2 linked regions of the Homo sapiens genome follow. The protein of the gene in region 1 interacts with the protein of each later gene in a pairwise test. Each region holds a gene or a part of one and is shown on either strand. Other genes may lie near its edges.

What was found. Proteins that work in one complex are often made in the same cells at the same time.
Region 2: the proteins of ME1 (region 1) and PC interact in binary tests that used the Homo sapiens proteins (3 or more experiments, as listed by UniProt).

Annotation. Positions count from the first base shown.
Region 1 is NC_000006.12:83,210,190-83,218,625, forward strand, and holds the end of ME1 (NADP-dependent malic enzyme), read right to left. Parts: intron 6,408-8,436; coding exon 6,309-6,407; intron 1,906-6,308; coding exon 1,735-1,905; 3' UTR 213-1,734; downstream 1-212. UniProt on the Homo sapiens protein: Catalyzes the oxidative decarboxylation of (S)-malate in the presence of NADP(+) and divalent metal ions, and decarboxylation of oxaloacetate.
Region 2 is NC_000011.10:66,864,384-66,871,383, forward strand, and holds part of PC (pyruvate carboxylase, mitochondrial precursor), read right to left. Parts: coding exon 6,932-7,000; intron 6,815-6,931; coding exon 6,669-6,814; intron 6,510-6,668; coding exon 6,392-6,509; intron 6,071-6,391; coding exon 5,919-6,070; intron 4,582-5,918; coding exon 4,463-4,581; intron 1,967-4,462; coding exon 1,804-1,966; intron 1-1,803. UniProt on the Homo sapiens protein: Pyruvate carboxylase catalyzes a 2-step reaction, involving the ATP-dependent carboxylation of the covalently attached biotin in the first step and the transfer of the carboxyl group to pyruvate in the second.

The DNA of each region.
Region 1 (8,436 bases):
TAGTCTTGAACTCCTGACCTCAGGTGATCTGCCTGTCTCAGCCTCCCAAAGTGCCAGGATTACAGGCGTGAGCCACTGTGCCCAGCCACATATGTTTTAAATGAATGATGTTTATACTGAAATTAGCAGTTATTAGAATATTTTAGAAATTCGTCACACATAATCATATGACCCCAAGACCAAGCATTACAATGTAACATTTTAAGAAAAAGGACAATTATTTTATATTTTTATTCATTCACCTTTTCTATGCTTTAATAAATCTTTTGCATAGGTAAACACATTTAGTCAGAGCTATAAGACAACATAGAAACAGACAAGAAATACACAGACATTCTGATTCTTCTCCAAATAACTATTTTGAGGAAACTCTTGACTATATGTTACCTTTAGAAATACCTTAACCTCTTCTGCTCATACCTAAAACAATTTGTGTAACCTTCAACTTTCAATAAAATCATTTTATAGTATAATTTATCTTGAATATCTTATACTCCTTAAAGCATTACTTCAAAAACAAAATTCTTCAAATAATTCTATAAATAAGTAGCAAATGTTATTGCACCTTAGCTTTATAATTTAAAATTTTTTCCATTACTTCAAACATTAGTTTCTAAAGTAAATTAATACAGTCTGGGCATATAACTACTCTTTCTCATAGAATGGTATTAGTCATCAAGATATTTTAATCTTATGTAAGGACATTTCTGATACTGGGAACTTAATTATAATACTTTCTCCAAATTCAGGCAAAAGCAAGATGATTATAACACAGTTAGCTCTTCATTACCTGAGTTAATTAAGAGGCCATTCTGGCAGGTAACTCCAGTAGGAACCTAACTTGTTGTCTTAAAGATCCTGAGATCTTTAAGAGGTCAGTTCCTCAGGCAGCCCTTTCTCAAGGATCTTAACTATATACTCTCCTTTCAGACCTTCTCACTGCTCAGGCTGTGCTGAACTGAAGGTGCCAACCTCGGGACAGGGGCCACAGTCCACAAAATCCCTGTAGCAACAGTATGGTAGCTGAAGGATGGGATGTTTGATCAAGGGGGAAAAAAGGTGATTTCAGGTGGGATTTCTGACTCAGGATCAAGGTAATAAGAGCTTTACTCTATGAGATGTAACAATGACAAAAGAATATTAAAATCTAAGGCTGCACAAGGCGCTGTAAACAGCAGTGATCTTTCTCTTAGAACTGTTAGAATTCCGTTGCACAAAAGAACATATATGATCTAGGACTGGAATAAAAATACTTGAGAAGTTATCTTTCTCTAGGCAACAAAGTAGTGTTATTTCTGCTTAGCAAAAGTTCACCTACGCCTAGATTCATTTCTAGCTTTTTTTTTTTGAAAAGTAGATTTTAACAAAATGGTCAACAAAATAATTATGAGTTTTAATGTTGGTTATGTCAATTTATTAGTAATTTTGGTCTTCCCATTAGTGTCCTGTATAAAAATGATGAGTTTCTCCGTAGTACGTACAACAGCTTTTAAAGAGAACGTAGGCAGAATAATTCAGACAGAAACCATAAATAACCAGAAGGCAAAGTGAAGCAAAATTGTCTCATGTGATGTTTATCCCAATTTATATCGATATTCTTCTATCAATTTTTAGACTGTTAAAGTAAAATCTTAATCTAAGTGTCTTATGAATCATTATAAAAGATTCCAACCTTTAAAAATTATGAAAGGTTTAAAGACCTCATTAATAGAGTTAGAAATGTTTGCTATTATCCTACTGGTCAACTTTGGTCTGTATTTTCTGCACCTCTTCAGGCCAAGAATAACAATCAGGTAGAATCTGGTCATAATCAGTACTATACATCTGGGAGCGGACAAATGCTTCTTTGTTTTGCGGTTCAGGATAAACTGTGGCTGTCTTTTCTTGGTATGCATCTTTCACAATCTAGATATAAGAAAAGAATATTAATTATTTTAATAAATAGAGGTAATCATGAGCCCATGTGAGTGGAAGTTTTTATCCATTTCAAAAACACTGTATCCTATGTTTGCAAAAACATTAAGTGTATTATAATAAAAGCACATATAAGCAATGAAGATATAAAATGAAAATGCAATTATAAATCATATAGTGAGAGAGAAAAATGACATCAGCAACTAAGGAAAGTGTGACCAGGTGAGACTGATTCAAGTACTATCACATCTGGATTTCTCAGAGAAGCCAGTGTTCAAAGTCTTGACATGACCTGACTGACAATTAACTTGAAATAAATACCTAAATAGTCCTGCTAAACTTGAACCTTGAATTTTCAAGAATCCCTATTCTCACCACAGCCTCCTACAAAATCTCTTCCTGTACCCCAGGGTCTCCTGATCTTGCTCAGCTAATCATCTAGACACCACAGTCAGGATGAGCACTCTTTGCCAGCGTCACAGATTCTCTGGTCATCACGCCCTGTGTTTCATGCATAATTCTAGTCCCTCGTCTGGGGACCCCTCAGAGCTGGCTTTCTCCTTTTGTGGCTGTGCATCCTAGAACGATGCAGTAAACTTTCTGTGGTGCTATATTTTTTTTCTAGTCTGCACATTATACTTTTTTCTCTCTTTACTTAAAACTTCCTCTTGTGGTTCCCAAAAAGCAATTCCAAACCTTCCCCCATCTTCAAGCTTCCATTTGACTCTCATCACTCACTGGAGAATCACATCATCATATCACATCATGGGAGAAAATTTCAACTACTCAGAGAAAATGACCTTAATTTCCCTTTTGACCAACTCAGACTATCTCCTCAGTGTCTTCATACATCTTCTCTTTCCCTACTTTCTTTAAATGGATTCTCTTCATCAAAATTAATCACTTCATATATACTATTTAATTCACACCAGTTTTTTTTTTTTTTTGAGATGGAGTCTTACTCTGTCACCCAGGTTGGAGTGCAGTGGCACGATCTCAGCTCACTGCAACCTCTGCCTCCTGGGTTCAAGCGATTCTCTGGCTGGCACAGTGGCTCATGCCTGTAATCCCAGCACTTTGGGAGGCCGAGGCAGGTGGATCACCTGAGGTCAGGAGTTCAAGACCAGCCTGACCAACATGGAGAAACCCCATCTCTACTAAAAATACAAAATTAGCCGGGTGTGGTGGTGCATGCCTGTAACCCTAGCTACTCGGGAGGCTGAGGCAAGAGAATCACTTGAACCCGGGAGGCAGAGGTTGCAGTGAGCCGAGATCACACCATTGTACTCTAGCCTGGGCAACAAGAGCAAAACTCCATCTCAAAAACGAAACAAAACAAAACAAAAAACAACAACAACAAAAAAACAAGCGATTCTCCTGCCTCAGCCTCCCAAGGGTTAACAGGCTCCTGCCACCACACCCGGCTAATTTCTGTACTTTTTTAGAAGAGAAGGGGTTTCGCCATGTTGGCCAGTCTGGTCTCAAACTCCTGACCTGAGGTGATCCACCTGCCTTGGCCTCCCGAAGTGCTGGGATTACAGGTGTGAGCCACCGTGCCCAGCCGAATTCACATCAGTTCTTAAAACAATATTTATATGACTGACTTATTTTGATAAGTCTGATTTCAAAGAATATCAGAATGATTATCTCATCTCAATGTAAAACTATGCATTTATGAACAATTAAGGTTATGAATACTGTGCTGTATTATGAAATGTCTATGAAAAAGCAGGAAACAATATGTATATTTCATAATTATAATAATGTTAGAAAATAAACAAACGAAAGACTCAAAACAAACACAGGAAAAAAAATAATACTTATATTAGAAAAATAGGATATTGGTTATTTTCCTTTTCTCTATTTGTTTTCCAAAGTGCCCATAATATGGTAGTATTACTTTTTAAACAGATTTATTGAGATATAATTCACACAAAATTCAAGCATTTTAAGTGTACAACTAAATTATTTTTGTAAATTTACTGAGCTGTGCAACAATATTACCACATTCAGTTTTAGAATATTTCCATCACCCCAAAAAGATCCCTCATGCCTACTTAAGATGGCTATGTTAATTTTATAATAAAACACATTGTTTCATTACTGACATAGACTATGTGGAAATTCATCTCCTCTTTCTGCTCCCAGTTATACCATAGAAATAATCCCTTCTCCCAATGAAATCTTCACTCTCTCTGTCCTGTCAATGCCAAACTCTCTGACAGAGTGGCTTATATTTTATTGCTTTCCTAATTCTCTGCCTTCTGAACCTCCTGTACATCTTGAAATTTCTTTTGTAAAAGTCTCTGATAACTTGTTAAGTACCAAATAAAAGTCTGCATCTGTTTTTCTCTCCAGGATTTGGCTGTGTTGGTCACAATTTCCACTCCCATTCTGAAATTGTCTCTTTCCTAATTATTGACATGCTGCTCAGTTTGGAGTCTCTTAAAATCCTGACCACTTCTCTTCTTAACTGGCATCTTTCTTCTGTCTTCTAGACAGAATAATAAACTATATTCTATTCTCATTTTTATTTCCTTTCTATACTTGCTTTCTTGGCAACCTCACCCACTCCTAGATATTCACCAGTTACCACATGCAGAAGATGCCCAGGTCTTTTATCTAGCCTCTCTTTAAGTTTCAGTCATTTCTATCTACTTGATAAAATGGTACATTTGAATGTGCCATTGATACCTCAAACTTGCAGTCCACTTACATGATCTCCCTCTCTGAAGTTGGTTCTTTGTTCTAGTTTCTCAATTTCTGTGTATGCACTCTGTATTCTTCCATTATTCTAGGTGTGATATCTGAATCTTTTGGCACTCCCCTGCTGTCCCCTGCTTTTTTTCCCCTCTAATCATAAGCTAACTCTTTTTCATTTAAATCTCCAAAATGAACTTAAAATGATAATATGCTATTCAGTATATTAATAGTTTAAACTACTTAAAAACTAGCAGATACATATTAGTAGAATATATGAACATACTTTTTCATAGATAACCAAGCAGATTATTATGTAAAGGTTTTTAGAGAATTACTTCTTTTTTTAAGAGACTGCCTTCAGTCAACGAGATAAATAATGATATGTGACTCTTAAATGGTGTTGTTTAGATAACTTGCTAATAGCTTAAGCTAGTGATTTTCAATCTGGAGCAATTTGGCCCCCAAGGGGATACTTGACAATGTCTGGAAACAGCTTTGGTTGATACAACTGAGCAGATGCTACTGACATCTAGTGGGCAGAGGCCAGGAATGCTGCTGAAGATTGTACAATGCCTGGGACAGCCGCATGATGGTTATTGACCCAAAATGTCCACAACGCTGAAGTAGAGAAACCCCAATTTAAACATATAACTACTGTCATGGCTAAACTGTGTTCCTCCCACCCCAAATTCAGTGTTGAAGCCCTAACCACTAGTACCTCAGAATGTGAGTGTATTTAGAAATAGGCCTTTAAGGAGATAATTAAGTTAAAATGAGACGGTTAGAATGGTCTATAATCCAATTTGATAGGTGTCCTTAAGAGAAGAGGAAATTTGGACACACAAGCGTGTACACACACAGAGAAAAGGCCATATGGGGACACAGAAAGAGGGCAGCCATCTGCCAGCCAAGGAGAGAGGCCTCAGAGGAAACCAAACCTGCAAACATCTTTATCTTAGACTTCTAGCTCCCAGAATTATGGGAAAATAGTTTTCTGTTGTTTAAGCCACACAGTCTGTGGCTTGAATATTTAAAAACAGTTACTACATAACCGTGGTATGTAGTTATCCCAGCCCAAGAAAACTAATACAATTACACTGCAAAAAAAGTCCACTTATCTTCCAGTTTAGTTACAGAAAATTTCTCTGCCTTTGGGTTCTTCTTGGCTAACTCCTTCAGTAGCTCATCTGCCACCCAAACAGCTTTCAAGTTCTTTGACCTCTTTATTTTGCCTTCCGCCCAGTATTATCAGTTGTGATCTGTCATTTATGATGCCACACATCATAGTGACATGGATATGGAAGGTGGTTCAAGGTCTAAATGTTACTCTAACATATCTGTAATATTTTGGTTAATTATCACTAATGTGATATAGAAAAGAACAACTTTAAAAAGGTGAAATGGGAGAAATCTGGCTGACAGGAAGCCCTAATGAATTATTTAAATTTTAGGAGAAAAAAAGAACGATAGAGAGGGAAATTAATTATTCGGCCCAATACTTCCATTCTTCTCTGAGAAGCAAATGTAGCTCCTAAGCTCTACAGTGTCAGTGTGCCTCATTTCTCTGACTTCTGACATAGTAAGTTGATACAGATATACATTTCAAGGAAGCAGATTTTTAATATTTAAAAATGCATATTTAGCAAGAAAAGGAAGGAAAAATAATGAAGCTTGAACAAGAGTGGTTTTACCTTTTCTGCAATTTTCAGAGAAACATCTCTAATGGTATTCAAAGGAGGATAAAGCCGACCCTCTTCCAAGTGTTTATCTGACACTTGCTGAGCTATAACCTTATGAAAAAAAGAAAGAAAAAAAGTGTTTATACTTCACACGATACAATGTGGTGGGTACGCCAATAACTAAGTGAACGGTTACATATAATGGTCTATACAAAAACCAGTGACATTAATATGATTACCTAATTTCATCCCCACTTCTATCAACAAAGAAATAAGCCCAGAGTGGTGTGGTGGTGGTTGAGATCACATAATTGGTGAAAAAGATGGGAATAGAATCTAGGTTTCCTTTTAGTCCACTTCCTTTTCTATTGTACCATGAAATGCTAGATACTTTCCAATTGATACATTAGGGGAACAAGGGAAAAGAAAAGAAAGAAAGAGGAAGATGATAGAGTAATGAAAATGGATCCTGAAAGCAGAGGAGGACAGCTATCCAAGGCTAAGCATGCCATTACTCCCAGCTCTGAGTCATATTCTTGTGCAGGAGGTAGAGCAAAAGGCTGAGAAAGCTAGTTCAGAGTCTCACTACAAATAGGATTTTAATTTTACACAGACTCTGGATTATCTAAATCACCTAATTAGCCTCAACATTTACTGTCCCCAAACCATTCCCTAGTTCCAAATCAAACAGTGTTAAATTTTGTATTGAACCCTAAGGCAGAGAGGGAGACTCAGTAACCCTGATGTTCTCTCCAGCTCTAAGACTTTGATTAAATTTCTAGATGGGGGCAAATCTAAATCAGCTTATACCTAGGCCTTTGTTCCATGAAAATGTGGATGCAGAGAGGGAGTAGGAAACCTTCCTCTTTTGTAACATTTTAAATAATCAAATACTTATTTTTCAGTATATCTTAATATCTTTTAGATTTTTAAATCATGAAATTATTTCCAAAATATTATTCTTTGCCATCAGCAAACATATATGCACTGAACAAGCATAACACTACGGAGAAGCTTAAGAAAAGTGTTATTGTCCTTGAGAGATGTATAATTTAGTAAGGTAACAGAGTACGGGAAGAAAAAGAGAACGCTGAAAGAGAAGACGGCTTAGGCTAATGGTGAAATGTGGGTGCTAAGAAATCCAGAGGAAGAGCAGTTCTGGAAGGCCTTATAGTGCACAGTGGCTTGAAAGGCAAACCTACAGGAAAGCCTGGAGTTAGACAAACAGAAAGTAGGTAGGCATTTCAGACAAAAAACAGAGTCAGACCAAAGGCAGAGTTGTGTGTGAGCTGGACTCAGCAGGCCCAAGTGTCCTGACCTGGGGGAGCAGAGGGTCTGGGTACAGAAATAAGGACTGGAGCATTATCAATGTCAAAAAAGGAGTTTGGAGTTAAATCCCGTCGGTGACTAAGGACTTCTGACCAGGGACATTTAGGCAGAGGTAAGATGGAAAGGAGAAGGAGGTAAAGTTACTAGTATAACTATTTGTTTGATTAGTATTGCTCTACATATTATACAAAATATTATAACATATAATTGTAGGGTGTTGACCATAATTTTATAATAAACTCATCATTTAACTCATTAATTTCTTGCCTTTGTAACAGGATGTTTGCCCTAGAATTGGTCATCAGGGTCCCAAACTTCAGGACAAAGATACGTTAACTATTCCACACTATCAGGAAGTCACCAAACAAGTGGGGCTTGCCATCTACCTCAGAAAGTAGAATCAGCCCTGCCAACCCCACAAACCACAGCCACCCCCTTCCAGAAGGCTGAGCTAGTGAGAGGCAGGGAAATTTGCTGGAACCATGGTTTGGCCTACTGGGTAATGTAGTGGCTTTTTCCTCCCCTCTTCTTGGTGCATGCTACTCCTTCTTAAAGGCTTATGGTGTCCTCAAGGAAAGACTGGGGGGCATTCTTTTCCCCTCCTCAGCGTGAGCAGTTATAGGTATGTGTACTTAAGCAGAGAAGAGAATGGGAAAGGGAGAGCCAGACAGACAGGGTGGCTGTAAGCTGTATACATTCCCATCAGTGGATCTGGTATGGGTACATGAGTTTCCAAGGTCAAGCGGCCATAGCAGAGGAGGCCTCTGCATCCCTGGGGACCTGAAGAAGTGTAAGGAAGCTAGGCTGAAGC
Region 2 (7,000 bases), on another chromosome or scaffold:
CGCCGTGGGCTCCCAGACAGCGAGGGGACGGCAGGCCGGCGACAGGGCCTCCAAAGGACCATGTGCGAGGCAAGAGGCAAGGCTGACCGGGGGTTTGTTTTTGTTTTTAACAGGGTGGTGGGGAAGGCCTCAACATCCACCCATGCTCCCTTCCTTTCCTTTCCTTTCCTTCCAGAAGGGAGGATGGGAGGGAGAGGAGGCAACGAGGAGGAAGTGGGAGAGGAAATGAAGGGAAAGTGCCAGAGGCAGGGTCCACACCCATCAGGGAAGCAAACCAAGGGCGAGGAGAGGGCAGCGGGGCAGCGGGACAGGGCCAGGGCCAGACGGCAATGGGAGGGGCAGCGGAGAGGAGGAGACAGAGGCGCCGACACTCACACACACAGGTGGCTCGTGCCGCCTGCACCTGTTCGTGCCGCCCGAGTGAGCCCCGCAGAGAAGGGCTCCCCGGAGGTGGGGGACCCGTCAGGCCCAGGTAAGGAAGAAGGGGAGTGGGGGGACCGCCCAGAGGGGCTCGGGACACCCACTGCCCATTTCCGCTTCTCGGGGGCAGAGGCCTGTGTTCAATAAAAAGGAACTTCATAAAATATTTAAGGGTGAACACTCAGCTGAGAGCAGAAACTGTCGGCTAAAAATACTCTGTGATGAGGCAGGCTCTGAAGAGCCAGGGCTTGGAAGTGGGGATGGAGGGAGGCAGAGAAGTCAGGGGCCGCCGGGCAGCACTCAGCCTGGGGCTGCCGCCACCTACAGACTCTTCCAGAAACAGAAGGCAGGTGGCCAGCTCCCTGCTGAAGCCACAGGCTCTGCTGCTTCCAGAATCCAGAGAGCTCTGGTCCCTACCCCCAGCCTCCCCAGCCTCCCTTGTCTCAGAAGCCCAGAGCCTGGCCCAAACTCATGTTTGCTCCCCTCACCGCCCCACACAAGCCCGGGGGCCTCTGCCTTGGACTCTGGAGCAAAGCTGGAGCTCCATCAATGTCTTGCCTCCTTTGGGGCTCAGGCCCCTGGATAGGGAGCAAGTCCCTAGCACAGCTGGCACGGTGCTGGCAGCACGTGCAGGGCTGGGAACAGGCACCGAGCAGGCCGCAGGGCTCCTGCCCACAGCTGGGACCAGAGGCGGGGGAGATGGGTTTCGGAGGCCAATGACTGGGTCCCGGTGCTGAGAGGAAGAAAGGTACAGGGAGCCCTCCTGGAGAAGGCGCGAGTCTTGCTGTGCTGAGGAGCCTGCCGTGGACCGCCTCAGCGCCCCCTACACCACTCTCTCCCCCACCAAGGCTGCCATCTCGCGGCCCCGAATCTACCTCTCGGTCTCCCTCCTGTGCCGCCATCTCCGACTCCCTCCCCCATCCTTGATGGGCCCCTGAGCTTGGCTCAGACTCCATTGGGACCTCTGGGCCCAGTCCTTTGCCACCCCCACCCCCAGGTCCTGCCATGTCAGCCCATCCCTCAGATGGGAGGTGGTGCTTGGGCTCCGTCGGCAGCCAGGCGTGGGGCTCCTGTGGGAGCTGGAGGGTCAGGGGCTGGCTTTGTGTCTGGGTCCCTGCGTTTTGCTCCACCAAGCCAGCCTGCTCCCCGCTCCCACCCTCACGGCTTCCTCCTGACCTGGGCGCCCAGCAGTCTCTTCCCCTGGGAGGCGCCGCCCCTCCTCTGGGCACTGCCTGCCTCCGTGTACTCTATGTCCACTTCAGAGCCCACATGCGGGTCCTCCCTAACTGCCGGGCTGTGGCAACTTGGCACTGCAGCCCCAGGCACCAGGCAGAACCTGTGCACAGGTGAGCTGGCATCTCCCTCTGCTCGAGCTCCGCCCACCTCAATGCGGCCGGTGTCCGGCTGGAAGCTGCGCGCGGGGTCCTCGGTGGTGACCCGGCACTGGATGGCACACCCGTTGATGCGGATGTTCTCCTGCCGCAGGCCCAGGTCGGGTAGGCTCCTGCCCTCAGCCACGTGGATCTGAGCATGGACCAGGTCTACGCTGTAGGGCATTGGGGGGAGGGGGGAAAGGACGGGAGAAAGGGGGAAACATGAGGCGGGGGATAGACGAGGGGCACCGCAGCCAGTGGGGCGTCCACACACAGTGCGACTCCTGCCCATAGGCTCTGGGCCAGCCTGAACAGCCGGTTCCTCCCAACCAGTGGCTCCACCAGCCCCTGCCCTGCTCCCGCCGGGAGCCGACTAAACTACACAGTGCCTGGCAGCTGGAGATGGCCCGCTGAAATACCAGGACCACCTGCTCCTGCATTCCTGACTCACGGTGCCGTCCACACAGCCCTAAGCTGCTCCTCCCTGTACTCTGCCTCCTCCTTCCTTGAGGTCTGTTTTCCCCACTCCCCTAAACTCCCCCTTGGTAAAGCCTAGATTTGAAGCCTCAGCAGATCTCTAGGTCAGAGGGCCAGGATAGCACATTCTTGGGGCCATATGTGCTATGCTGTGTGGGTGGTTGTGAGGGGGGCAGTGTGCAAGGGAACAGGTGCTGTGAAGGCTGGGCTCCTCGAAATGGTAACCACAGCTGTGAGAGGGTTGCACAGTGGGTGCTGGGTCAGGACCTGTCCTTCTGAGGCCTGTTTTCCTGCTGGACTTGTGCCCAAAACCCCCTAGAGATGCTTGGAGAGTGCAAGCTTCCCCACCTCTGCAGGGTTTTCCAAGCTCAGCCTTACTGCTCCTAAGGGCAGTCACAAGTCCAAGTGGAACAGCTGTTTAAAAAACAAAACAAACAAACAAAAAAACCAGGCTGGGCACAGCAGGTCATGCCTGTAATCCCAGCACTTTGGGAGGCCAAAGTGGGTGAATCCCACGAGGCCAGGAGTTCGAGACTAGCCTGGCCAACATGGTGAAACCCTGTCTCTACTAAAAATACAAAAATTAGCCAGGCCTGGTAGTGTGTGCCTGTAATCCCAGCTACTCAGGAGGCTGAGGCAGGAGAATCACTTGAACCCGGGAGGCAGAAGTTGCAGTGAGCAAAGATTGCACCACTGCACTCCAGCCTGGGTGACAGAGCAAGACTATGTCTTAAAAAAAACCACTCAAGGTTTTACATGTATTGCCACTGAGGCTTGTGGTGAAGGCAGCCTGGAACCTACACTGGCAGGATTTCCCCGTGTTCTTGCTGCCTGCTGGCCCACTTCGCAGCAGAGATGACAGCTTCCACTCAGTGCCACAGGCCAGGCTGCACTCCTCCCATGCTTCATCTCCACGACGGTGTGCTGAGAGCCCTGTCATTCCCACCAGAGGAGGAGCTCGAGGGTCAGAGAGGTTGGAGCTCACCCAGGCTCCACGTGGCTTGGGACCTGAGAGCACCTGAGCCCCAATCTGTCTGACACAAAACCCGTGCTCCACAGCAGACAGACTCCCATCCCTAACAGGACGCTCTAAGCAGACCCAAGACCGAGGAGTTCACAGCAGCTTGAGGGGAAGAGTCTCACTCGGCCAAAGTGTTGGCCTTGTCTCTAAGCTTCTCCTAAGGGGAGGGAGGGGCCTCCATGCCCCCGGCGAGCCACAGCAGCCACCCCGACAGCATCCTCAGTCTCAGGTGGGGTTGGGGCTGGGGGCAGAACTGGGGTCAGGGATGCTCCACAGTGAGATGGGCTGGCCCAAAGCAGCGTCAAGAAATTACATGGCTCATAGTAGAGACCTTGAAGGGTGAGGGCCATCATGACTGTCATTTAGAAACCAGGCGGATTTTGAAAATGTCATCCTCAGTGCCTGCAGGGAGCACGCTAGTGCCACCTCTCTAGAGGGCTGTTCCGAGGGATGCTACTTATCCTTCAATCAGATAATCCTGTTGAAGGGTTTACCCTCAGAACTCTTCAGAGCTGAAGCCAAACATTCAGGCACACAGATGATAAGTGACACGCTTAATAACCACCAAAGCCAGACACACAAACTAATTGCCTAACAATCGAGGACTATGTAAGTTAAGAAATACACACAAGACGGAATAGTACGCAGCCACTAAAAGTATTCAGACAGAATTATGGCCTGGGGAAATGCCTTCAACAAATATTAAATAATTTGAAAAGTAGAATAAAAATTCTATATAAAACATCTCTATTGCATCAAACTATGTCTCTAGTAAAACAGGTAAACCGGGAAAGGAGCAAACCAAAGACAGCCGGAGATGCCTGGGTTCCAGCGCCAGCTGTGTGACCCCGAGCAACTCTCCAAATGTCTCTGAGCCTTGCTTTACTCCTCTGACAGATGGGAGCACCTGGGCCTGAGCAATCGGCAGCGTCCTGACAGAGAGGAGGGCTGTCAGTCATTTTTATTTGCTCCTTTGTGCTGATTTTTATAATAACCACGTAATGCTTTTAGAATAATGACTTTTAAAACACTAAGTACCTGGATCCCCATTGCTCTCCACCAATGTGGGGAGTGAGCAAGCCCCCTGGCTGGCCCCAGGAGCCACTTCGCCTGTACTTTATGCAAATCCTAGAAGCCGCGCCTCCCGCCCCGCCTGCCCGCCCACACTCACTCGGTGATCTCCTCTGTGACCGTGTGCTCCACCTGCAGGCGGGAGTTGACCTCGATGAAGTAGTGCTTGCCGTGCCTGTCCACCAGGAACTCCACGGTGCCTGCGTTCTCGTAGCCCACCTGTGGGGGCGGCCACGTGAGCAGGGGAGGGCACAGGCAGGGCCTGGGCAAACTCACTGGACTCAGGACAGGGATTCCGTCCCACCCATTGGGTTGGTTCCGTAAAAGAATGGCCTGTGGCAAACCCTGCCCCCACAGATGGCAGACAGACCCCAGGGCCCAGGTCATGCTCCTGCCTGGACACGTCCCCCAAGTAGTCCACTAGGCTCCAGGGTTCCCGGAGCCACAGATGGCTGCACCCAGCTTATCTGGGACGAGACATGGGCAGAAGCCCCCACCCATCCCAGGCTCGGCACCTTGCCCTGCTGCCTCCTGGGCTTGCCCGCCAAGGCTGTGTCATCCACCCAGACACGGAGACCCAGGCCTCTCCCAGCCGCTGCTTCTGCTTGGAGGTGTTTTCAGAAAGTCCCCTTCTAGTCTACTGCGCAGTCACCTCTGGCCACCACCACCCAAAGAAATTCATTTGAGAGGTACCAACAGATAATGACTCTAACTCAAATTTCAGCCCTAATTCCAGTTTCACTTTTGGTCTCACCAAAACGATAAACCAGACTGAATCACCTCCCTTAAACCTGTTCTGGAATGTGAAATAGTATAAGCCAGTAAATAAGACCTGACTTAAACGCGACCCTGGTCGATGCCTCGCATTAGCTGTGGCTGAGGCCTTGCTGCAGAGTGCACACCCCGGCCTTCGGCATGGGGAGGTGACGCATCCTCTGCTGCCTATAGGCCAGGGAAGAAGAGGGGGCAGGACCCCGCTGCACACCTGGCCACAGCAGGTGCTCTCCAGGCCAGTCCTGGGGCAGGTCACTGTGGGGAGATAGCTTGCCACCTCAGCCTCCTCCACAGCCCAGGACCCCCCGACCAGAGGTCCCAGAAAAGCAGAGATGGGCAGAGGGTGCAGAGCAAGGAAACAGATCATAATAAACATGATGTAGGAGACAGAAGCACATGAGGGAGGACTGCCTTCATAATGGTCCTCAATCTTGACAGAATCCACGGAATCTCATTCTCCTGATGACAGGGATGAGCTGATGCCACAGAGAAGCCAGGTCTGTGTAGCAGCAGGGCTGAGGAGGCGGCTGGGGCTCCTTCCCTCCCTCTTCTCAGCCATCCTGGACTCTAAGCTTGGCCTCTGGGCCAGGTGCCTCAACTGCACATGGGAAGGATGCCACAAACCCACTTCTGGCCCCCAGGAGAGTCCTTCACCCTCTTCTCCCCATCCCCAGTCCCCAGAAGGGGACTCAGGGTCCCCTTCCCCAACCAGCGCCCCACTGTGAGGCCTGCCGGCCTGTGAGCACAGGCTCCTGTCCCAACACGGGAAGCCCACCCTTCACCTGTTTAGCGAGTTTCACAGAGTCGCTGGTGAGCCGAGTCCGAAGCTGCGGGTCCAGGTGGGCGGCGGGGGCAATCTCGACCACCTTCTGGTGCCGCCGCTGGATGGAGCAGTCTCGCTCGTACAGGTGCAGGATGTTCCCATACTGGTCCCCTGGGGAGGGAGGTAAACTGGGCTTAGCTTTTACTGGAATCTACACGCCTCCTAAATGCCCCATCACCCCCACATAACCACTGTCGCCAGTCAGTGCCGGCTGCCAGCGGTACAGAGGCTGCCAGGAGAGACACCAGCATCACCAAGGCTGTGAGGACCAACTGCCAGCTCGGCCCCTAGAGCCCACTTTCCAGAGTCCTCTGGAAAAGCGCCCGACAGGCCCCAGGGCTGTCCCCAAGGCCAGCCACTGTGACGGCACCAGGACTGGGCCTCTCAGCTCCCGCCTCCAGCTGCCCCAGGCGGGGCGTCAGGACCACTCACCCAAGATCTGCACCTCGATGTGCCGTGGCTTCTCGATGAACTTCTCCACAAACAGCGCCCCATTCCCAAAGGCGGCCAGAGCCTCTGAGTAGGCCCGGGTGTAATTCTCCTCCAGCTCCTGCGAGGGCGGGCAGGGGCCAGCCAGACCTCAGACCCCACAGCGCTACCTCTCCCCTGCCATGAACCCCACCCACTTTCCAGATCCCTTGAGTGGTCCGCCCCTGCCCCCACGGCAGGCTGCCCTGCCCTGCTCCCAGCCCTGGGCATCTTCACTCACCTCGTAGCTGTGCACCACCCTCATGCCACGCCCTCCACCCCCATAGGCCGCCTTGAAGATGATGGGGAAGCCGTAGGTGTTGGAGAACTCGTGGGCCTCATGCAGGGACGTGATGGGGGCATCTGTGCCAGGGACAACGGGAACACCTGTTGGGAGAAAGGTGTGGGGGAGTCTCTGTAACAGGCGGGAATCCCTGCCACCCCTCCCTGCTGGACCCTCTCCAGGAGCTGCGGGGCCACCCCTTGCTTGCCCGTTATATTCACCCGCAGCAATGGCGATGGCCCGGGCCTCCACCTTGTCTCCCATCTTGCGGACCACTTCTGGGCTTGGCC